3 separate regions of the Homo sapiens genome follow, and all the other regions are linked to region 3. The links come from fine-mapping of genetic effects on gene expression. A gene starts in region 3. Each other region holds a variant in brackets. All regions are shown on one strand. Distances are from middle to middle.

What was found. PIP is the estimated chance that this variant, and not a neighbour inherited with it, causes the effect.
Region 1: its variant is the best candidate, but not a certain one, in a credible set for the expression of EIF1AX in sigmoid colon (GTEx, PIP 0.66).
Region 2: its variant is the best candidate, but not a certain one, in a credible set for the expression of EIF1AX in prefrontal cortex (GTEx, PIP 0.85).

The regions. Positions count from the first base shown.
Region 1 is chrX:20,306,548-20,314,717 of GRCh38, forward strand. No RefSeq gene overlaps it. Among named protein-coding and RNA genes, the nearest start is that of RPS6KA3, 44 kb to the left of the region's middle. The variant C/T (reference allele first, on the strand shown) is at 4,067.
Region 2 is chrX:20,100,144-20,108,327 of GRCh38, forward strand. The region is part of intron 1 of MAP7D2 (MAP7 domain containing 2); the gene reads right to left. Among named protein-coding and RNA genes, the nearest start is that of MAP7D2, 13 kb to the right of the region's middle. The variant G/T (reference allele first, on the strand shown) is at 3,480.
Region 3 is chrX:20,137,439-20,145,622 of GRCh38, forward strand. EIF1AX (eukaryotic translation initiation factor 1A X-linked) reads right to left here and starts at 4,400. Exons shown (of 7, transcript NM_001412.4): 1 at 4,187-4,400; 2 at 1,101-1,184. The coding sequence starts at 4,202. EIF1AX-AS1 (EIF1AX antisense RNA 1) reads left to right here and starts at 2,530. Exons shown (of 2, transcript NR_046592.2): 1 at 2,530-2,797; 2 at 2,897-3,006. RefSeq lists enhancers at 3,642-3,801, 4,132-4,401, 4,462-4,511.

The DNA of each region.
Region 1 (8,170 bases), 170 kb after region 3:
GCCCAGAGCAAGAGTACACACGGAAACCCACATACTCTATGCCTGATTGTGAAAAGTTATAAAATATTATAAAATGTATTCTATCATCTTCTTGACATATCAATATTGGCCTGGAAGGCCAGGTCCAGATTTAGAGTTCTTGGCCTCCTCAGAGTTCTGCACCAGAACCTGATGGTACAGGGTGAGCCAGCCCCTGGCTCCTGAGCCCAGCCAGAGGTCAAGCTCCCTTTCTCTTCCCACCCCAGAATCCTCCAAACACCACGAGGGGTCTTGCACAATGTGGATGGACACCCTGCCTACGTGTCCAAGCTCTGTTTACACAGCCCCAAACAACTGCCCTTTGATGGTTCCTTGGGACTAGAGATGTGCTCATTTGTAACACGGTCTGCTGTTGGGAAGATGGACCAGGGAAGGGGACCATGGTGGCTGTGGAAGCCAGCTCTTGGTCCCCTGGGCAGTGTATTCTGGGGTCCTGGTACCTGGATTGTGGTCTAGGTGGGGCACAGGCTCTGGATGGGCATAGCCTTTTGACCCTACTGACTCCTGCCCTATGGGGAAGAATGTGGCTATGGGGGGTATCAGAGCAGAACCCATTAAATCATGGGGCTCAGGGAAGTAGCCCCTTTTGCTGCTTGCTACCTTTGAGTGTGGCATTTTTGCTTGCTACCTTTGAGGAGGAACAAGGAAGCTATTCCTATATCCTCAGGATTTGAACTGTGATGATGGAGGAGATATGAAGCTTTCGTTCTGTAGAGGGTCTATAAAAAGTAAAGGAAGGAAGAAAAGGAAACCAGAATGTATGGAGCATCTGTGCTGAGCCTGGCTGTGTGAAATACACTTTTGCTTGTGTGATCTAATTTAATCTCCCGAATAACCCCGGGAAGTAGACTTTGCGTGCTCCTGCATAAGGTTAAGAAAATAAACTTAAGGAGGTCACTTCCGTGCCCAGAGTCACATAGCCAATGAGCCAGGGAGCACAGGCTCAAACCCAGGGCTCTGGCTATTTCTAAAGCCCATATTCTTTCCACTACAACACATTGCTTTGAAAGACCTCCTCAAAGAAAGACTTCCTCAAAGAAAGACTTCATTTGTAATGAGAGTAAAGAGCAATATAGAAAGTAAAATCTCACACTGTTCAGACATGAAAATCACGGCAGGAATCCTCATTCCAGGACTGATTCCTGTCTTGAGGTCCCCAGCTCTCCTGGGAGTCCTTGACAACAGTATGTGAGTTTATGAGCTTTAGGTATTTTTAAAAATTGAGGTAAAATTTATCTAGGGTGAAATGCACAGATCTCAGACATACAATTTGAAGAGGTGTTTTTATTTTTTTGCAAATGCAAACACTCATGTAACCACTACCCCAATCAAGACAACAGGGGGACTCTAGCCAATAATAATTTAATTGTACATTTAAAGAGAACTAAAAGAGTATAATTGGATTGTTTGTAACACAAAGGATAAATGCTTGAGGGTACGGATACTCAATTTTCATGAAGTGATTATTATGCATTGCATGCCTGTACCAAAATATCTCATGTACCCCATAAATATATACACCTACTATGTACCCACAGAAACTAAAAATACAGAAAAAATTTAAAAAGATATTTATTTCCTCAAGACACGTCCCTCGCTCCAGAAATTTCCCTGTGCCTCTTTCTAGGTAATCTCCCCACACAATAGGCAAACACTGCTCTGATTTCTATTACTATGGATTTGTTTGACCTGGTTTAGAACTTCATGTAAATAGAATCACACAGTATGTATTCTTTCTTTTGTATGTGACTTTTTGCTCAGCATGTTTTTCAAGATTTATCCATATTATTGGATAAAAGGTGTTCTCTCCTTTTTATAGCTAAGTAGTATTTCAGTGTATGAATATATCACAATTTGTTTATTCTTTCACCTATTGATAGGCACTTGGGCTCTTTTCTATTTTTGGCTTATAAATAAGGCTGGCATAAACATTCTTGTACATGTCTTTTTATGAATATGTGTATTCATTTATTTTGGGCATATATCTATGAAGGGAATTGCCTTGTTGTATGGTAGGGGTAGGTTTAATTTTTTAAGTAACTGCTAAAGTTTTCCAAAGTTGTTACAGCATTTTACACTCTTACCAGCAATGTATAAGAGTTTCAGTTGATAAGCTTCTGTAAATTTAAAATATTTAATTTTGAAATATTTTAATCATAAAAAGAAAGGATAATATTAATAACTGATAACCATGTATCTATCACTAAGATTTAACTTGTTAATGATTTCCTGTATTTGTGTCAGGTCTTAATAAGTGAAATATTACAGATATACTCAAAGGCCGTCTCCCCCATCTTCATCCTTTTCCTCCTCCCTGGAAGTTACAATCATCCTGAAGTTGCTGTGTATCCTTACCATGTCTATTTTTATTTTTATTTTTATTTGAGATGGGGGTCTTGCTCTGTTGCCCAGGCTGGAGTGCAGTGGTACAATTATAGCTCACTGCAGCCTCAACCTACTGGGCTCAAGTGATCCTGCTGCCTCAGCCTCTCAAGTAGCTAGGACTACAGGTTTGCACCAATGTACCTGGCTAATTTTTTTAATTATTTTTAATTTTTTTTTGTAGCGATCCGGGTCTTCTTTGTTGCCCAGGCTGGTCTTGAACTCCTGCCCTCAAGTGGTTCTCCTGCCTCAGCCTCCCAAAGTGCTGGGATTACAGGCGTGAGCCACTGTGCCCACCTATTTTTAGATATAGGACATAGTATATGAACCATTTTCAATATTTCAACAATTCTAAAAAAGATGATGTATTTTTCTATGACACATCTGGGCATAGTATTTGAAATAGCAGCCATCTTAATAAAAAAGTCAATTTAATACTTTAAACATTTTTATTTCCTGCTTATTGTTATTTATTGATTCTAATGTATATTAATTAGGTTGTTTACTCAAAATTTATAGAAAATGGGGAATATTAATTTTTATTTTAAAAGGTAGATTATGTGGCAGATGAAAATCTTTCAAAGCTTGGAATCCTTCAAGGGAAAGCAATGAAGAAGTTCTTGGCGGTTGTACTGGTGGGAACTGTAGAGCTAATACAACCCTCCTGTATTATGGATAAGAAAAAACCGAGTCACATACCAGTTGTGACTTGCTAGGTTTTTGCAGTTAAAGCATACCAGCTCAGGACCAGAACCAGGCCTTCTGATATCCATTCTAGAATTCTCTTGATCACCCCATGCAGCTTCCATGCCACTGAAGGCGATCAAAGATGGAGAAGGAAGAAAGGAGAGAAGAAAATGTGATGTGGAGGCGGGAGGAAGGAAAAACTTCATAAAAACACGACGGCAGAAATGTGGTATTTTAAGCAAGACGTTTGCCCTTCATATGAATGATTCTTGGATTTTTGGTGTATATTTTTGGTAGCAGTATGCGGTGAGTCACTAACAAAGAGCTTGAGACAGATGAGTTAACATAAATGGACCAAAATAAGCTGTGGTCTCTAGGCTGAGCAGCTGTTGGACAGACCTGCCAATATTTTATTTCCCAGAGACACTTGCAGTGGATTAAAGTGAGCACGCGGCAAATGCCTCATTAGAAAATTCCATACCTTTCAGAGTTTCCTGTGCCTGAGATGCGGCTTTCCAGGGGAAAGGCAAAAACTCCTAGCTATTTATTGAAGTTTCACTGTGTGGAAGAGGGTAGGCAAGAGGGGCTTGTTGGTGGAGGGATAACACAGAGAGGCAGAGGAATCAGAAAGTCTTAGGTTTTCAGCCCCAGTTGTGCCACTAAGCTGTGTAACTGAGGTGGGACTCCTTTAGCCTTCTCTGTGGTTGTTTTTCATCTTCTGAATGATGAGCTTTTATACAAAGATCTCCTAGGTCCCTTCCAGTTTAAAAATGTATAGTTCTCAGGCCAGGCGTGATGGCTCATGCCGGTAATCCCAGCGCTTTGGGAGGCCAAGGCGGGTAGATCGCTTGAGCTCAGGAGTTCGAGACCAGCCTGGGCAACATAGTGAGATCCTGCCTCTACAAAAAATACAAAAATTAGCTGGGTGTGGTGGCTCACACCTGTAGTCCCATCTACT[C/T]GAGAGGCTGAGGTGGGAGGATCACTTGAACCCAGGAGGTGGAGGTTGCAGGGAGCCAAGATTGAGTCACTGCACTCCAGCCTGGGCAATAGAGCGACACCCTGTCTCCAAAACAAAAATTATAGTTTTCATTAATTAAGTGCTAACTTTGTGCCAGGCACCTTGCAAAATGCTTTACATACTGATATTTCTCCTCCATGAAACCTTTGAGGTTGTTTCAACAGTAGTCTCATTTTCAGATAAAGAAACCGAGGCTTAAAGATAGTAAGAAACCTACCTGAAGTCACGTAGCGAGCAGTGGCAGAGCCTGGACTCAAGCCTGAGACTGTCACAGATATTTGGCTGCTTAATCACCGTTCTGCATTGCCCTTTCTTTCTAAGCAGGACATTAGGAACTCGTTGCCTTCACATCCCTCTTCCTCTCCACCATTTTATATGTTTCAAATCGTTATGCTTCAACTGGACTGTAGTGGATTTCCAGGTCCTAATTGGAGCACCTTGCTGCATCCACATATATATACTATGGACTGTGGATGAATGACATTAAAGATAGTAAATCAAATTCAGGACACACACCTCATGCAAGACAGAAATAGTGTTGAGTGGAGCACAGCAAGGCCATTTGATTCACTGGATCTTCGTCGGCTTGAGTATTTTGTACGTTCTCTCCACTGGACACTCTGTACCCAATGTTCCAACTGATTTCGCTGGCAGAGACGTCTTATGAGAAGATACCTTATTTGAAGAGCCGTTTCAATAACCTCCTCTATCCTGATTTAATATGATATGGCCATGGCAACGGCAGTAATAGTGGCAGCTCCTTTGTTCCCTTTTGTGAATGACATACAATTTAAGCACCTTTTTGCACAGCCTCTCTTCCAGTGAAGACATCAGATGTAGGGAGAACATCCTTATCTTTAATATAAAATAAAATAAATAAACTCTAAGATTGTGGGTGATGTTATCTAACTTCTGTTCAAGATGAGTCTTTAGTTGGTTACTTAAAATATTGTCTTTAAGTTCTACTGGGATATTTATGAGTGAAATCACACTTTCCATACTTCTGTCTTTGATGTCTGCCTCTATAGAAATGGAGAACTGAAACAATATCTAATAATTCAAACCAAAAAGCCAGCGCTGCTTATATTGTACTATTTGGATGTTTTAAAGTATAGAAACTTTGAGCTGAAAGGGAAGGAAATAAACATTCAATCTTCTTGTTTTAAAAACCGTTTTACTGAGGTGTGATTGACATACAAAACACACTCAACCTTCTAAGTCAAAAAGCAAGTGTTACAGTATGAAAGATTACATTAATGACCTTACTTCTTCACCTCTTCCTTTACCAGGTGACCTTGGAATTTCATCCACTGAAGAGCCAGAGTCTATTTTCCTTTCCTTTGAATCTGGGCTGGCCCTGTAACTTGTTTTGGGCAATAGAATGTGGTGGAAGTGATGGTGGGCCAGTTCCAGGTCCAGGTCTCAAAAGGCCTTGAGTGTTTTCACTTACTTCTGTGTTTGCCACGAGAACATATCCAGGTTATCCTGTTGGAAGATGGGACATGAGGAGCAGAGTTGAGTCATTCTAGTCATTGCAGCTGAGGTTATCCTAGATTAGCTGAGCTGCAGATGACTGTAAGATCCATGAGTGAGTCCAGTTGAAATCAGAAGCACTGTCCATCTGAGCCCAGCCTAAATTGCCAACCCACAGACTTGTGAACACAATAAATGGTTATTGTTTAAAGACACTGAGTCTTGGGGTGTTTTATTACACAGAATTATGTGGTCACTGATAACTGATACAGAAAGTGAGGCTTTAGTTGTCAGGAAAACATCCAGGAAGTACCTAAGGATTGGAAGGATTGCAGGAAGTAGCAAGAATCAAACTGCGATTTAACAGTAATTTGAAGTCTTTGCAAATCAGCATGGCTATGGATCCCCTGCCAATAGTTATGCTGCATGCATGTACTGAGTCTATTATTAGCAAGACTCTGTGCTAGGTAGAATACCTAGTGAATGGGAGTCCAGGAGAAGTAAAAGTAAATGGTGGACCTGATTAAGAGAGGCTGACCATGGGAATGAAAGTGGGCCACATGGCTGATGACATTTATAGTGGTAGAGAATAGTGAATTCAAGGAGCTGGGTGTGGGGCCAAGGGTCAAGGAAAGACCAGTGAAAACAAGACGAAGTTAAAGGCCCAGATAAAGAGAAAGATACTGAATCTCAGTCATGGAAGAAAATGCCTATATTAGATACAGATGTGCTGGGAAATTAACATCTCCAGCCCCAACCTGCCAGCAGCAATCCTCAACCAATGACCCCTGGTCTCTCGGCTCTTGGGTAGGATAATTCTCTTTTTTTAAAAAACATAATTTCTTTTTAAATATTTTTTTAATTCTTTTATTTTCCTTTCTTTAGAGGTAAAGTCTGAGATTTTAGTGCACCCATCACCCAAGTAGTGTACGTTGTACCCAATATGTAGTTCTTTTATCCCTCACACTCCTCCCACCCTCCCCTCTTCTGAGTTTCCAATGTCCATTATACCACTCTGCATCCCTTTGTATACCCATAGCTTAGCTTCCACTTCTAAGTGAGAACATGCGGTATTTGGTTTTCCATTCCTGAGTTACTTCACTTCTCATAATGGCCTCCAGCTCCATCCAAGTTGCTGCAAAAGACATTATTTCACTCTTTTTCTGTGGCTGAGTAGTGTTCCATGGTGTATGTATGCCACATTTTAAAAATCCATGCATTGGTTGATGGGCACTCAGGCTGGTTCCATATCTTTGCAATTGTGAATTGTGCTGCAATAAACATACATGTACAGGTGTCTTTCTGATGCAATGACTTGTTTTACTTTGAGTAAATACCCAGTAGTGGAATTGCTGGATCAAACGGAAGATCTACTTTTAGCTCTTTAAGAAATCTCATGTCTGCAATCCCAGCACTTTTAGGAGGCTGAGGCCTGTGGATCACCTGAGGTCAGGAGTTCAAGACCAGCCTGGCCAACATGGTGAAACCCCATCTCTACTATAAATAGAAAAAATTAGCCGGGCGTGGTGGCAGGCGCCTGTAATCCCAGCTACTCGGCAGGCTGAGGCAGGAGAATCACTTGAACTTGGGAGGCGGAGGTTGCAGTGAGCTGAGATCATGCCATTACACTCCAGCCTGGGCAACAAGAGCAAAACTCCGTCTCCAAAAAAAGAAAAAAAAAAGAAAGAAAGAAGAAAGAAAAAGAAATCTCCTACTGTTTTCCAGAGTTGTTCCTACTGTTTTCCAGGTTGTGCTAATTTACATTCCCACCAACAGCATATAAGCATTCCCTTTTCTTGGGTAATTCTGAAGCATGTATTTTATCCCTTCCTCATAATTTCCCCCACTGAATTAAGCTCCAGTCACCTACTGTGGCAGCTGGCTTAATAACACACCCTTTATCTGCTGTCTTCACTTCCCCACTTACTCCAAGGCCCCTAGATTCCTCTCTGTTCCTTAAACAAGCTCAGTTACTTCCTGCGCTAGGGCCTTTGTGGTTTTACCCTCTGCCTGAAATGCTCCTCTTCTGACATGTGCATGGCTGCCATCTTCTTGTTATTCAGGCTTAAAGTTCACCTTGTTAAAGAAGCCTTGCCTGGTCACCAAATCTAAAGTACCTTCATCATCTGATCTTAATTTTCCACATTGCTTTTTTCACTATCAGATGTTTTACTTATTTGTTTGCTTGTTTTCATATGTTGTTGGTAAGAGTGTAAATTAGCACAAAACCTCTGGGAAGGTTGTTGGGCAGTAACTACCAAAGCCACCTATGATCCAGCAATTTCATTCCTAAGTATATATTTAGGAGGAATGTATATTTATGTCCATCAAAAGCCATATTCAAGAATGTTTACTGCAGCTTTATTCATAACCGGGACCAAACCAAATGTTCATCAATAGGAAAATAGATAAATAAATTGTGAAATATTCAATGGAATATCCTCAATGGAATACTATACAGCAATGAAAAGAATGAGCTACTGCTATACACAACCACATGGATGAATATCACAGAAATGATGAAGAACAAAAGAAGCCTGGCACAAAAGAGAACATATTATATGATTCCAC
Region 2 (8,184 bases), 37 kb before region 3:
CTCATGAAGTGGTGCTTAGTTTGGCTAAGACAGAGGAATGTAAATACATATTCATAATATAATGCTTATAAGTTGCAATAAAGCTATCACTGGAGCAAAGGAGGATGCACTGCCTGGGGTGGCAGCCTTGGACTTGCCCCTACATCTCCACCAGTATAGCTACAATTCAAAAGACTGACCATACCAAGTACTGACAAAGATGGAGAGGAACTAGAACTCTCATGCACTGTGGTGGGAATACAAAATGGTACAGCCATGTGGCTGGCAAAATATTGGCCCCAAGCTGTCGATGTTCTAGCTCCCAGAACCTGTGAATATGCTATCCCATATAACAAAAAGACCTTTCTAGATGTGATCAAGTTAAGGCTCTTGAGATGGGGAGATTATCCAGGATTTTCCAAGTAGGCCCAAGGTAATCACAACAGAGGTAGGTGAGTTAGAGAGAAGAGATGTAACAGTGGAAGTAGAGCTGGGGGGGAGGGAGGGGAAGGAGCAAGAGAGAAAGAGATTGGAAGATGCTATGATGCTGGCCTTGAAGACGGAGGAAGGGGCCATGAGCCAAGGAATGCAGGCAGCCTCTAGAAGCTGGAAAAGACAACCGGGCGTGGTGGCTCAAGTCTGTAATCCCAGCACTTTGGGAGGCTGAGACAGGCAGATCACCTGAGGTCGGGAGTTCGAGACCAGCCTGACCAACATGGAGAAACCCTGTCTCTACTAAAAATATAAAATTAGCTGGGTGTGGTGGTGAATGCCTGTAATTCCAACCACTCAGGAGGCTGAGGCAGGAGAATCGCTTGATCCCGGGAGGCGGAGGTTGCGGTGAGCCGAGATCGCACCACTGCACTCCAGCCTGGGCAACAAGAGTAAAACTCCGTCTCAAAAAAAAAAAAAAACAAACAAACAAAAAAAGAAGTTGGAAAGGACAAGGAAACAGATTCTCCCTTAGCACATCCTGAAAGGCTCTGCTGACACCTTGATTTTAAGACTTCTGACGTCTGGAATTGAGATAATACATTTATTTTGCTTTAAGCCACTAAAGTTTGTGATAATCTGTTATAGCAGCAATAAGAAATGAATACAAGCCACTTTGGAAAATGGTTTGGCAATATCCGCTAATGCTGAAGACATGCCTATCCTATCACAGAATGGAACCTGTGTTTTGATTTACCATGTTGGAAACACTCTTTTTGTAGAATCTACGAGGTGACATTTCTGAGCCCATTGAGGCCTATAAGAAAAAATCGAATATCAAGCGATAAAAACTAGAAACAAGCTAACTGTGAAAATGCTTTGTGATGTATCATTTTATCTCGCAGAATGGAACTTGTGTTTTGATTCAGGAGGTTACAAACACTCTTTATATAGAATCTATGAAGTGACATTTCAGATCCCATTCCACTTCTAGGTATGTACCCAACAGAAATGTATGGGCATCAAGGTATCTGCACAAGCATAACGCTCATAAAAGTTTTAGTCAAAAGAATAAAAAGCTGGAAAAAAACAATGTCCATCCAGCAAGAGAATTGATAAAACAAATTGTGATACAGTCACACAAAGTACTACTACTCAGAAATAAAAAGAAATGAACCACTGGTACCTGTGACAACATAGGTGAATCTTGCAGACATAATGTCAAGTGAAAAGAAAACAAAAAGAGACACAAAGAAGGATATACTTGATGAAAAAGTTCTGGAGATGGATTGTGGTGGTGGCTGCACAACAACATGAATGTACTTAATGCCACTGAACTGTACACTTCAAAATTGCTAAAACAGTAAATTTTATGTTACATATATTTTATCACAATAAAAAAGTATCTCCTAAATGAATCTATTTTAATACAATTTAAAAATAAGCAAAGCAAATCTATAGTGAAAAGAGGTGAGAACAGTGGTTACCTTTGAGAGAAGTATTGACTAGGAGGAGGCATGAAGGAGCCTTCTGGGTACTGAAAGTATTTAACATCTTGATCTGGGTGTGGGTTACATGGTTGTATACATAATCAGACTGTGCACTTAAGATTTGTGTACTTTAGTTTCCAAGTGCCAGTCCCAGTTTTATTTGCACATGGTTTATCTGCATTTTCATAATCAATGCTGTAATGGAAAATGAATAAGAAGGGAAAAAACCATCAAAAGTGTGTGTGGTTGGGGAAGGCTTCAGAGAGGAGGTGAGGTGTGAGCCAAGTACTGAAAGATGAACAGGGTAGACAGGAATGAAGATGGCAGACACAGAGAGGAAAAGAATTCCAGGTGAAGAGAACAGCATGTACACAAGCAGTCACGTGCAAAGTGTGCTGAACATTCTGAGCGGGAGTGGTTACAGGCCAGAGAGATGGGGGTGGAGGGGTAAATTGGAGCCCCATTCCAACATGCCTGAAAACTCCAACAGCAGTTTAGAATATACTCTTTAAGAAGTGCTAGGCAAGTGTCAGAGGAGATTAAAGCAAGAGAATGACATGAAGGATCCATGACAGGGACGGTGACCTGGACGGACGGACAGAGATCCCTAAGGTTCTTCTGATACTGGTGAGGCTCTAGATGACAGAGTCTGACCCAAAGCACTGGCCATGGGGATGCGGTCATGAGAGATAAAGAAGGCAGAACCCTCGGGTTTGGCTGTAATGGGCGGGGTGGGGGGGAGTCGTTCTAAGCTATGTGGCTGGTGATCCCACTAATGAGAAGGGTAGATAGCAGCCATATGCTTCCCTCTGCTTCCTAGGCCAGCTGTGGAGGATCACAGCATCACAGAGTTGGAACGCACCAGTAAGATCACCTTGTGTACAATCTCATTGTACAGACAAGCAACTGAGTTCTAGGGGCCAATGTCTGAGGCCGCAGTTTGTAAGGAGCAAGCTAGAATGAAAGAGCTGAGACTTATCCATTTTACTGAGTACTTGCTAGAGAACAGGGAACACGATTAACTCAGCAAAGGCATCCAATGCCCCCACCAACCTCACTTCCTGCCACGGGGTTCTCTGGCCTAGGGTGTGGTTGAGGTCCCTGCCAACCTTTTGCTGGAAAAGCTCTGCCCACAGCTCACCCAAATCCTGCATAGCTAGCTACTGGTTTTATCTAATGGTTTGGTAATGGCTTGTAAGTCAATCTGGTTTCTCCAACCAAGTTGTGAAACTAAAGACCCTGGCTCCAGTTTTTACTCTTCAGTTGTGCCAAGTTGAAAAGCTGAGACAGGACAGAGAGGATTGGCTGACTGTGGGCACTCCAGGGCCACCACGGAGCCAGGAACAAGTCTTGTCTACCAGTTCGATCACTGTCCTACAGACCTGATACAGTGTCAAGGAGCTAACTGCTGGTTCTGTTCTTGGTGGCCTACCAGCATCTGAGAGTGGTTGAATGACAAGTGCCAAATATCAAAGCCTGTACAGGAGAAACCAAGAGTAGGTGGGTTTGAAGTAACTTTGTTTGAGATCTGAAACTCCTTCCTCATTCCTGATCCTAATCTGTCGAGGTTAGTCAACA[G/T]CTAGTTAATTGTACAGTCCAATACAGAAGCTACTACTATATGTGCTGATATAAATTCAATTTTTTTAAATTTAGAAACAATTAAAAACTCAGGTCTTCAATGCTCAACAGCCACATGTGGCTAGTGGCCATCATATGGAACAGTTCAGACCTAGAACATTTCCAACATCACAGAAAGTTCTACTGGACAGTGTTGTACCTTGCATGTCTTATCTCTGCTTGAATTAAGAGCCATTTGCTCTGATATAATCTTTACATGCCAAAGTGTAAATAATCCTTTTGATTTTTAAGCAGTAAAGATAAAACTATGTACCACAAAGGACATTCAACACTCCCCAGTAGAAAGGCACTGAGAACCCTTGGGCCTCTTGGTTGAAACAGAGAAACTAAAACACAACTAAGAGAAATTAAAGTTGAACAGGGTATAGTGAAACAGTCCATTTTCCTCACTTAATTGTTCTTCTATAAAAAGGGTTAATCTCATCCCAGAAGATTAGGGATATGTGGAGCTCAATGGACTATTAATAAGAAGCAATTATTCTTCAGAAAAAAATTTGTGACTGGCAAAAGTAAAATCAAGTGAAGTGGAAATTTAGGTGGGTGAGGAGAGGAAAAAGGGAGAGCAGGAACATGTTTTGCAGTAAGAAAATGGCAATTAAAATGCATAATTTTTAATGTTTAGTTTATGATGTTTTTGAGACAGAGTCTCGCTATGTAGCCCAGGCTGGAGTACAGTGGCACAATCTCAGCTCACTGCAACCTCTGCCTCCCAGGTTCAAGCAATTCTCCTGCCTCAGCCTCCCGAGTAGATGGGGTTACAGGCGTGCGCCACCACACCCGGCTAATTTTTGTATTTTTAGTAGAGAGGGGGTTTCGCCATGTTGGCCAGGCTGGTCTCGAACTCCTGACCTCAGGTGATCCACCCCTCTCGGCCTCCCAAAGTGCTGGGATTACAGGCATGAGCCACCACGCCTGGCCTAGAATTAGTGATTTTTTTAAAAGAGCTTTTGGTCTGTAGACATAACTACAACTGCTTAAAAATATTGATTATCTAGCTAATGAAAATGATCAATGCTAAATTTTATTCATAACACGTATCTCCACCAGGGGAAAAATTACCCAGGTACAAGGAAAGCTTCCACTGAAGGCTGTCACAGTATTTCACCACCCACTGTCACCCCTGACTGGTGATCAAGAAAACTAAACAAATACAATTAATAGGGTAGAAAAGAGCAACACCTGCTAAGAGGTGATGCTATCCCCATGAACAATACACTTTCCCTCTGGTAAATGTAGTGCTGAAAACGCGCTAGGTATTGAAGGAAGAGAACATACAGGAATCCCATGGGGGGCTGTTTTTAAGAATAAGCACATCAGCAGAATTCGGTTTTGCCCAGTTTACGATTCAGACGGTTACTTCAAGTTAATAGCACATATTAAGGTGTTGTTCTGAAACAGGGACATAGAGCACTGCTTAATAAAGGGCTGCAGGTGCCTGGTGAGACTCCAGCTGCGAGGTCATTTCCTGCCCTCCCTCCCTCCTTCCAGAAAAGATTAAGATTGCTTATATAAAATACAGTAGAAATAAATACAGAAAGTAGGAGAGAAAGAGAAAAACAAGGGTAGGGATAAAAAATGGAGCTGAAAAGGACGTTAATCCCATACATCTACCACAGCAACCAGAGTACCACACTGGTTGAGTTGCTAAACCAAGAGTCAACTCTGAAGGAATCAGTGACCAACGGTGAAGACAGACCAACTGCTCAGGAAGGAGACAAGCTGGTCTGGGAAGGGGTTCATCCTGCAGGCCCTGAAGCAGGTGCTGGGTAATCAGTCCACTAAGGCCATCTGTAACTAATGGCAGCTCTTTCACATCAAACCTAGAAAGATGGAGGCAGAACCAGCCCAGATACACTGGAACTTCCCTGTTTAATGGTGTAGTTCCCAGAGTTAGGGCATCTGTCCTAACAGTCAATCAGTACCTATTGGTCAGAATCAGCAAGTGGCTTCTGTGGACAAGGCACTAGGAAGACATGACACCAGCTGGGGAAGATGACCAGATCGAATCTCACAGAGCCCATTGAATCCCGACTCAGCAGACCCTACCCAGCAGCAGGGATTCCTGACCCCGACCCCAACACCAAACCCAGGAGATCCTAAGCTGGCTAATACAGCTCTCTCCTCCCACAGTTATGGTTCCATGTTTTTTCAATACCATGCTTTCTGTCTTAGTCTGTTTTCAGTGGCTATAACAGAATACCACAGACTGGGTAACTTATAACAAACAAATTTACTTGGCTCACAATTCTGGATGCTGGTGGTGTCAGCATCTGCTTGGCATCTGGTGAGGGCCTTCTTCTTGCATCAAAACATGGCAAAAGGGCAAGCAAGCCCATGATACAGAGAGAGCAAATGGGGGCCAAACCGAATCCACTATCAACAATAATCCACTCATGAGGGCAGAGCCCCATGGCCTACTCACTTCTTAAAGGTCCCATCTCTTAATGCCATCACAATGGCAATTTTGACATGAGTTTTGGAATGGACATTCAAACCTTAGCACTTTTCCTCGATGACAGCTTAATAATTCCCACAAAGCCAAGTCCATCCCCTTTCCACAGTCTATCAGGTCCCCAAGACAATAATCTGTGTGAGGACCCACTAGTCACAGCCTTGGTGCACTCCCTTCACCCAGGCTGGGGAAAGCAAAATCAGGATATCCCTTCAAAAGCCTGGGGAATCCGGGCCTGCTTTGCCTGATATGGGGGAGCCCATTCCATCAAAGTGTGTTTCCATTTCCTCTACATTCATGAAGAAGAGATCCAAGCTGGACTCACTACCACAGCACACATACTGTGCTTCACGCCATACTTGACAGCACAGTCATCACACTGAATACTTAGTCACCATGAGACTCAATGTAGACCACAAAACTCCCTGCGTGATGGAAATGCTCTAGGTCAGTGCCGTACAATACAGTAGCCACTAGCCGCAGTTGGCTATTGAGCACGTGAAACGCAAACAGTCCAAATGGAGACACACTAGAAGTGTAAAATAGACATGGAATTTCAAAGACTTGCTGCAAAGAAAAGAATGTCAGATATCTCATTAATAACGTTTAATATTAATTACATGCTGAGGCTAGGTGAGGTGGCTCATGCCTGTAATCCCAGCATGAGACCTGTCTCTATTTAAAAAAAAAATTCAAAAATGATCCAGGCATGGTGGCACTCACCTGTGGTCCTGGCTACTTGGGAGCTGAGGTGGGAGGATCGCTTGAGCCTGAGAGGTTGGGGCTGCAGTGAGCTGTGATGGCAGCACTGCACTCCAACCTGGGCAACAGCGCGAAACCCTGCCTCTACAAAGAAAAAAAAAAAAAGGACTACACACAGAGCTGATGAACTTTGGAGGTTTAGTAATGACGGCAAGGGCGGTAGGCTCGGGGTAGCCCACAGCAGAGGGCGGTGGGGAAAATGATGAAATCTAATGTGCTGTCTGGTTCTTTCAGCAGAGACAGAAGGAATGCTCATCCTTGGAGAGGATTGTGAGGGACCTGGTTTCACACAGGGGAAGCCAGGATTGGTTGGTTGTTTTGCCAAATTTTACCTACTTTAGGGAAGGAAAGTGTGGTTAAGGGAGAGAACTTGGTACATAAGAGGATGAAGGGGCTGGGCGCGGTGGCTCAAACCTGTAATCCCAGCACTTTGGGAGGCCAAGGCAGGCAGATCACTTGAGGTCAGGAGTTCAAGACCAGCCTAGACAACATGGTGAAACCCTGTCTCTACTAAAAATACAAAAATTAGCTAGGCGTGGTGGCATGTGCCTATAATCCCAGCTACTTGGGAGGCTAAGGCATAAGAACCGTTTGAACCGGGGAGGTAGAGGTTGCAGTGAGCCAAGATCACGCCACCGCACTCCAGCCTGGGGGATAGAGAGAGACTCTGTTTCCCGCCCCCCCCAAAATTAATTAATTAATTACATGCTGAAAGATAATATTTTGGAACATACTTGACTAAGTAAGTTGTATTATATTAATTTCACCGTTTCTTTTTCTTAATGTGTCTACTAGAAAAATTAAGATTACATATGTGGCTAGCATTCTGTTTGTATTAGCCAGCACTGACTTCTATTATTTGGTCTTTTTATTTTTAAAATTTTTTTCCTAGACGCCAGGCCCAGTGGATAGTCTTTTTCTTTAAATTGACTTATTTTCGCTTAGTTTTTGTAGTTTTTTCACTTTTTACTCATTCTGAAAATATTCAGAAACTGTAGCATGATGTACTAGTTGTAGTTTTAAAATAAATTGAAGAATCAACAGAACTATTAATCTAAAGTTAAAAAGATAAGTCTGTCCACATGCAATCTAAAACCCTCTTATGTACCATACCCTTTGGGAAATACTGGCCCAGGGCAGAGCTATTCAAAGTGTGTCCTGTGGACAGGTGCCAGTCTCTCTTTTTTACGTTTTTTTTGTTTGTTTGTTTTTTTCTTCAGGAAACCCTGAGCAGCCTAACCCTGATGGGCTGTGGGGAGGGAGCACAATCTCTTTATTATTCATTATCAATCTGCAATAAAGAATAAAGGCATAAATTGAGAGCATGCTTCTTTTTTATTTTATTTTTTTTTTTTTGAGACAGAGTCTCACTCTGTCACCTAGGCTGGAGTGCAGTGGCGCCATTTCAGCTCACTGCAACCTCCACCTCCC
Region 3 (8,184 bases):
CCATCTCAAAAAAAAAATTAAAAAATCCCACATATATATTTCTTTATATGTGTGTGTACAGATGAAGGATTTAAGGGAGTTTGTTGCACTAATACTGCAACTTTCTGTAGGTTTGAAATGACTCGAAATAAAAGTAACAGGAAAGGGCAAACGATCCAGTTAGGATTTATTTGACTAGTGCTATGTATCTTGGTCTGGCACTTACAATATTCTTCAGTCTAATAAAATCAGTTAACTGTTCAGTTTCATTTTATTGTAGTTTACGAAGTTATATGCTAATGGCACTGGAGAATGGAGAGGTCTATAAGGGCCTCAGGCTCATCCTTCAAATGTCCATGGTCTACTCAACATATTATATGTACCATTCACTACCAGAAATGCTAATCATAGAACTGCCAACTAAATCACAGAACTGTCAACCATAGCTCAATTCCCTCTGAACTATACGACACATTCTTAGTTCCCAGTACTTTGGGAGGTCATGGTGGGAGAATCACTTGAGCCCAGGAGTTCGAGAATAGCCAGGGCAACATATGAAGACCTCATCTCTATACAGTTTTTTTTTTTTTTTTTTTTTTTTTTTTGAGACAGAGTCTCCCTCTGTCACCCAGGCTGGAGTGCAGTGGTGTGATCTCGGCTCACTGCAACCTCCGCCTCCCAGGTTCAAACAATTCTCCTGCCTCAGCCTCCTGAGTAGCTGGGATTACAGGCACGTGCCACCACACCCAGCTAATTTTTGTAATTTTAGTAGAGACGGGGTTTCATCATGTTGGTCAGGCTGGTCTCGAACTCCTGACCTCGTGATCCGCCCGCCTTGGCCTCCCAAAGTGCTGGGATTACAGACGTGAGCCACTGCGCCCAGCCTAAAAAAATTTTTAAAATTAGCCAGACGTGGTGGTGTGTGCCTGTAGTCCCAAATACTCGGGAGGCTGAAGTGGAAGGACTGCTTCAGCCCAGGAGGTCATGGCTGCAGTGGGCTGTAATCGTGCCACCACACTTCACCCTGGGCGATGGGCAAGACGCTGTCTCAAAAAAATAAAGTCCCCAGCTAAAAAAGAAAGGATGTTATTTTAAAAAGCGTAATTTATGAAAACACTTACCCTGACCATCCTCTTTGAATACCAGTTCTCTTTTTTCAGATTCATTCTCATTCTTACCCCTGCGTCTGTTTTTACCTCCTTTACCTGATGGTTTAAAAAAAAGAAAAGGAGGTAAATGACATTAATTATCTGTAAAACAGTATGAAATAAAATGAAATTAAGGCTTATAAAACCATTTTTTAAAAGATCACTTAAATTAAAAAATTCATCTATTTTAGCTACACAATCATATTAAATTTACAATCTCCAATCCCAACATTAACACATTATCACCTCCCTACCCTTCTTGGAATTTCCTTTGGGGATTTTTCTGACATAAAATACACATAAATAGCAGATATTATGTTAAAAAATATAGAAAAACATTTCACTTTAGCACCCATCCTTTTGAAATAAAAATGCAATTCTATACATATTCTTCTAAGCGGAAATCTTGGGTGTCTTCTAAAGCCAGGCCCTATGCAAGGAACCCGATACTTTCAAAATTAAGTGAAGACAGTGTCTGGACAGAGAACTGTGGTTTTCAAACTTTTGGTAGCAGAGTACCATAAATATTGAAATCTCACTGGGTGCAGTGGTGTGCGCCTAGGGTCTCAGCTACTCAGGAGGCTCAGGTGGGAGGATCACTTGAGCAAGCCCAGGAGGTTCCAGGCTAGCCTGGGCAACATAGCGAGACACTGTCTCTTAAAAAATAAAGAAGATCTGTTCGGTACCCAATTTACTTTCTTTTATAATGCTGGTCCCTACTCAACATCCCTGTTTCTATTATATGACCCCAGTGACCATGCTCTTAACCACTATGCAATAATTCTGCCCATTTACTTGTCACAATCACCCCATGAGGTCATAACATTCATTTATTCCCAGTTTACCCATGAGTTCCCTGAAGCTCAGAGAAGTTAAGTAAGTCGCTTAGCTTCAGTGAGTAAATCAGTTCACTGATTACAGTCAGTAAGCTGGGGTGACCAAAGTCACAATGTTTTTTTTGCCCCTAGCCCCCACATAAGCTTACCTCTCCACAGCATTTTGCTCCCATTCCAGAAAGGAAACCACATTGGCAGCCATTTCCAAAAGGCAGGAAAAAGGCTGTAAGTGGTAATGACCCTAAGAGACTCATGGGAAGAGCTTGGAAGCAGCAAAAAAAAATGGAGGACACTTAAATTAGGTCATGAAAAGTACCATTCCTCTAAGTAAGATAACTAAGAACTGATTGGTTTCAGACAGTACAGGAATGATAAACACCAAACTCAGCCTGGTGATTACCTCCAAAAAGAGAGTAAAAGGTGATTAGGGCTTTACCTCAATCTGCGCTGTAATTCTTAAATTCAGAGTAATGGGTTCCCAGGTATATCATGTTAGCTGTATTTTTTGTATGCCTCAAATGTTATTTAAGAAAAGACTAATTACTTGTCAATTTACCAGAATTAACCATACCCGGATCACTCCCCTTTGTATTTTATTGCCATGTAATGGGATGTTCTTTAAATTCTCTGTTGAATGAATGAGACTAGGTCTGAGTGTACAACAATTAAAGTGACATCAACATTCTTTAAACCAGAGTTGTTTTGGAGAAATTCCCAGAGAGGCTCTTTCTTAAGACATGAGGCTAGGGAACTAGATGTGATTTAGTGTAGAAGTCCTATCCCCTTGGAACCAAAGCAGAACCTATTATTCACTAAGGGTGGAGTCGACAGGAGGTAGGTGACTTAAACCAACAAATATTTATTAAGCATCTACTAATTGTCAAGTGCTGGCAATCCAATGAGATTAAGACAGATACTATTCCTGCCTTGTAGAGCTTACAGCCTGGTGGAAGAATTGGAAATCTTATTACTAGAAATAAAGGTGAGAATAAGATGGAAGTGATCCCCTTACCACCTCAGAGAGAATAAAGGATTATACAGAAGAAAACTGTAAGACTTTAAAATTTTTTGTTTATAACTCCATCTTTTCCAAAATAATGAGCAGTGACTGCACCAACTTGTGCACAGAACACCTCGACCAAGTACCCTAAGGGATAAAGTAATAAGTGACAGCTACAAAGAGGAAATGTGGTAGAATCCCTGGAGCCAGCTGTCAAGTAGAAAAGAGAGCAGAAGTAGGCCTGTGTCAGGGGAGGGTTTCCTCTAGAATGAATAATCAAAGGAGACTACTTACGGACTATGAAGTATGCTCCTCTCCTGTAGGAAAATACAGTATTTTCCCTATATTTACTTGCACAATTTTCTTCAAGTTATACGGCTATTAAAAATGACAGGAACACTGTAAATCTATAAAAGTAATTTCTTTAGGAGTGTTCTGTTTTTTGTTTTTGTTTTTTTTTTTTTAAGATTAGGCCTTCCGTTTTGGAAATCCCAAATAAAGTTATCCTCAAGTCTGATCATTTGTGAACGCTTAGCCTCAGAATGGAGGACACTTAAATTAGGTCTTTATTCTCACAACATATGCATCATCTGAAGCAAAAGTAGAAAACTTGGCTCAATATGGAATAAGTCTTCAGCAAACAAACATAAGCTATATCCTGTAAAGGGATGGAGAGAGTAAATCTCTAGAGGTGAGCCTTAGAAATGTATCAAGGTTTCACCCACTGTTCACAAGGGACAGCGAGTAGCCTCAACAATACTGAACTGTCCATAAAGAAACCCATGCAGGAGTACCTGGTGCTCACGAATGCAGACAGCACTCTGAAAGTTCAGAACGGCTTCCAGGGATTATAACCCCTCATGCCCGGGAAGGCCAAAGGGGCCTATCTACTAAACCTAGGCCGCCCCGGGGAAGGTTCCCGCCACCGTCCCCACCGAGCAGCGGTCAGTCTGGCGCGAATCAGGAGCAAAAGCCCACATTCTCCCGCAGGAGGCCCTACAAAAATGGCGCCGGCTCCACCCCAATGTGACCAAACTGGGCAACAGGAGTTAACTTCCCAGCTCCTCTCCCGAGCTCAGAGTCGCGTGTGGGGCGCCCAGCCGCGGGCAGGCAGGGCGGGAAGGAAAAAGGGTCACTGCGGCCTGGGTGACCTGCAATCTACGGGCAGGACCTGGGAGACCCGGCCGAGCAGAGCCGTGGTCCGGGGGTCCGGGCGGCATTACCTTTATTCTTGGGCATGGCGGTGGCGGCGACCTCGCGGCGTCTCTGACTTCTTTCCGGGTAGCGGCGACCGCGGCGGCTGCTGCTCCGAGGGGCGACACGAGGGAGCGCGCGGGACCAAGTAGGTGCTGGAGGCCAGGCAACGTGCGCGGGAGAGGCTGGCGACCCAGCTCTTCAGAGATCCGCCTGCGTCCACGCTCGGCGGCAGCAAATGGCGCCGCGACTCTTTGCGTCGCTTTTCCCCGCCTCCCGTCGCCGGCTGGGCCCGCCCCCAGGCTTTATGACGCAGGCGTGGCCGACTGACTCCTATTGTTAGAGCCGAGGGAGACGCGTTGTGGGAGGGTGCGCAGCAAGCCAGAGAGGACGCGAGGGGCAGGGCCTCAAGCAGGGAAAAGGCGGAGTCAGGGAGGGAGGGGGAGAGACTCTGCGTCATAGAAAAGGGCGGGTTGAGGTGGCGCTTGCTGCTGGTTAAGACCAGACCTCTGCTGCTTTGTAGCAAACGCGCGTCTCCCGGTTTCACAAGTGGCTGACTCGTTAACCTCGTGGTTAGCTCAGTTTTTAAAAAATATGTATATTTTTATTTTTATTTTATTTTTTGAGACGGAGTCTTGCTCTAGAGTCGCCCAGGCTGGAGTGCAGTGGCGCGATCTCGGCTCACTGCAACCTCTGCCGCCCGGGTTCAAGCGATTCTCCTGCCTCGGCCTCCGGAGTAGCCGGGATTACAGGCACGTGCCGCCACGCCCGTCTAATTTTTGTGTTTTTAGTAGAGACGGGGTTTCAGCATCTTGGCTAGGCTGGTCTTGAACTCCTGACCACGTGATCCATCCGTCTCGGCCTCCCAAAGTGCTGGGATTACAGGCGTGAGCCACCGCGCCCGGCCAATATTTTAATTTTTTTATTAAGATGGAGTCTTGCTCTATCGCCCAGGCTGGAGTGCAGTGGCGCGATCACGGCTCACTACAACCTCCGCCTCCCGGGCTCAAGCGATTCTCCTGCCTCAGCCTCCCGAGTAGCTGGGATTACAGGCATGTGCCACCATGCCCAGGTAATTTTAGTACTTTTAGTTGAGACGGGGTTTCACCATGTTGGCCAGGCTGGTCTCGAACTCGTGACCTCAACTCGCGCCCACCTCGGCCTCCCAAAGTGCTGGGATTACAGGCGTCAGCCACCGTGCCCAGCCGGTTAGCTCATAACGCAGTCCTTTCACTCGCCCAGCCGGGTTGGGAGCCTGATGGGAAGGGCAAGGCTTTCCTGGCATCCATTACCAAAGCATAATATTTGCATGGCACTTGTTATTACTCTTTAAGTCTGTCTGTCCTACCTCACTGTAAACCTTACCGGGCAGAGACCATGTTTGTTGCTTACCATTACCCCCACTTAGCTGAATGTCTGGCACATAATAGGTGTTCAATACACACAGAAAGGAAGGGAGGGAGGGGAGAAAAGACTTAAGCTCAATGTTAATGGGCTGAATTGTGTCCCCCCCAAAATTCGTATGTTCACGTTCTAATCCCCAGTAACTCAATGTGACTGTATTTGGACATAAGTTCTTCAAAGACGTGATTAAATTGAAATGAGGTCATTAGTGTGGACCCTTATCTGACTGGTGTCCTTACAAGAAGATATTATTAGGCCACAGGCATAGAGGGAGAACACCACGTGAACAAGAAGGTAGCCATCTATAAGCCCAGGAGAGAGGCCAACCCTGTTGACGCTTGATTTTAGACTTTCAGTCTCCAGAACAATGAGAAAATAAATTTCTGTTGTTTAAGCCACTCAGTACGTGGTACTTTGTTATGACAGTCCTAGCAAACTAATACAGCTGGCTAATGCTGGGCTGTACTCTACAAGATTTATTTCTAAGTAAACTTATTTTGACTAAACCAAGTAAACTTATTTTAAATAAATCACCTTTCCACAAACACCAGGGTTTGCACATACTTAGAAGACAGAAATAAAGTATCATCATCTAATATAGTGGTTCTTTTCTGTGAACATTTGGCAGCGTCAACCAGAAATGTTTCTGGTTGTCATAACTTGAGGAGGGGGGCAGTGATGCTGGCATCTAGTGGGCAGAGGCCAGGGATGCGGCTAAACATCCTACAGTGCACAGTACAATCTCCCCTCCCCCATACAAGCAAACAATTATCCAGCCCAAAACATCAGCAGAGCTGATATTGAGAAACCCAATGACAGATGCACTTCTTAGAGTGAAATTGAAAGATAATGGGGGACTCAAAGTTCTGGGTTTCTCTTTCTATCTGCAATATTTTTCAATTTACATAATTGAGGATGAAAGGATTTTTTATGAAATTTATTTAAATTTTGCTCCAAGGTCAAATAATTATGAACTTGAGCTTTGGAGTTAGAGAGGCCTGGGTTCAAATTCAAGCTCTGCAGTAACTTATTACTCTATTTTCTTGGGCAAGTTTTAATCTCTTTACAAGCTTCCGTTTTCTCATCTGTAAATTGGATGTAGGAATAGTACTAACCGGCCAGGCGCAGTGGCTCACACCTATAATCCCAGCACTTTGGGAGGCCGAAGTGGGCGAATCACCTGAGGTCAGGAGTTCGAGACCAGCCTGGCCAAAATGGTGAAACCCCATCTCTACTCAAAAATTCAAAAATTAGCCGGGTATGGTGGCAGGCGCCTATAGTCCCAGCCACTTGGGAGACTGAGGCAGGAGAATCACTTGAACCCAGGAGGCGGAGGTTGCAGTGAGCCAAGATCGCGCCACTGCACTCCAGCCTGGGCAACAAGAGTGAAACTCCATCTCCAACAAACAAACGAACAAAAAAAAAGAAAAAAAAAAGAATAGTACTTACATTAGGTTGTTGCAGGAATTAAATTGATATAATGCATTCAATTAGCAATTGTGCCTAGTACATGGTAAGTAGTTAGACTCTAAGAGTCCGGAACTCTAAATGTTTAAAAATAAAAAGTTTCTGTCAATTACCCAGTATAAAACCTCAAAGAGGAAAAAAAAATATCAGGCTTCATTTCTCTACTGTAGGATGGTTCCCCCATCTGACTGATCATCTTAATCACTTGGAAGGAAGTGAGTCAGGTGGACATCTGGGGGAAATGTGTTCTAGGCAGAGAGAACAGCAAGGGCAAAGGCCCTGAGTGGAAGCATGCTTGGTATATTCAGGAAACAGCAAGAAGCCAGGTGCAGTGGCTTCCACCTGTAATCCCAGTGACTCAGGAGGCTGAGATGGGAAGATCGAGCTTGAGGCCAGTAGTTCGAGACCAGCCCAGGCAACATAGCGAGACCCACCCCCCCATCTCTAAAATAATAAACACACGACAGTAAAAAAAGCCAGGCATGGTAGTTCACATCTGTAGTCCCAGCTACTTGGGAGGCTGAGGCAGGAGGATCCTTAGAGCCCAGGAGTTTGAGGATGCAATGAGCTATGATCGTGCCACTGCATTTCAGCCTGGGCAACAGAGTGAGACCCCATGAAAGAAAGAAGGAAAGGAGGAAGGAGGGAAGGACATAAATGAAGGAAAGGAAAGAAGGAAGGAAGGAAGAAAAGAAAGGTCAGTGTGGCTAGAATGCATTGAGCCAAGGGAAGAATTTGAAGAGATGAGATTGGAGAAGTAAGGAGGCCAGATCACTTGAATCTTCAGTAGGTTTTTTTTTTTTTTTTTTTTTTTTTTTTTGAGACAGAGTCTCGCTCTGTTGCCCAGGCTGGAGTGCAGTGGCGCGATCTTGGCTCACTGCAACCTCCGCCCCCTAGGTTCAAGTGATTCACCTGCCTCAGCCTCCCTTAGTAGCTGGGACTACAGGTGTGCGCTACCGTGCCTGGCTAATTTTTGTATTTTTAGTAGAGACGGGGTTTCGCCATGTTGGCCAGGCTGTTCTCGAACTGCTGACCTCAAGTGATCCACCCGCTTTGGCCTCCCAAAGGGCTGGGATTACAGGCATGAGCCACTGCGCCCGGCCTTTCAGTAGGTTTTTAAATAGATCATTTTGGTTTCTGTGTTAAGAACAGACTG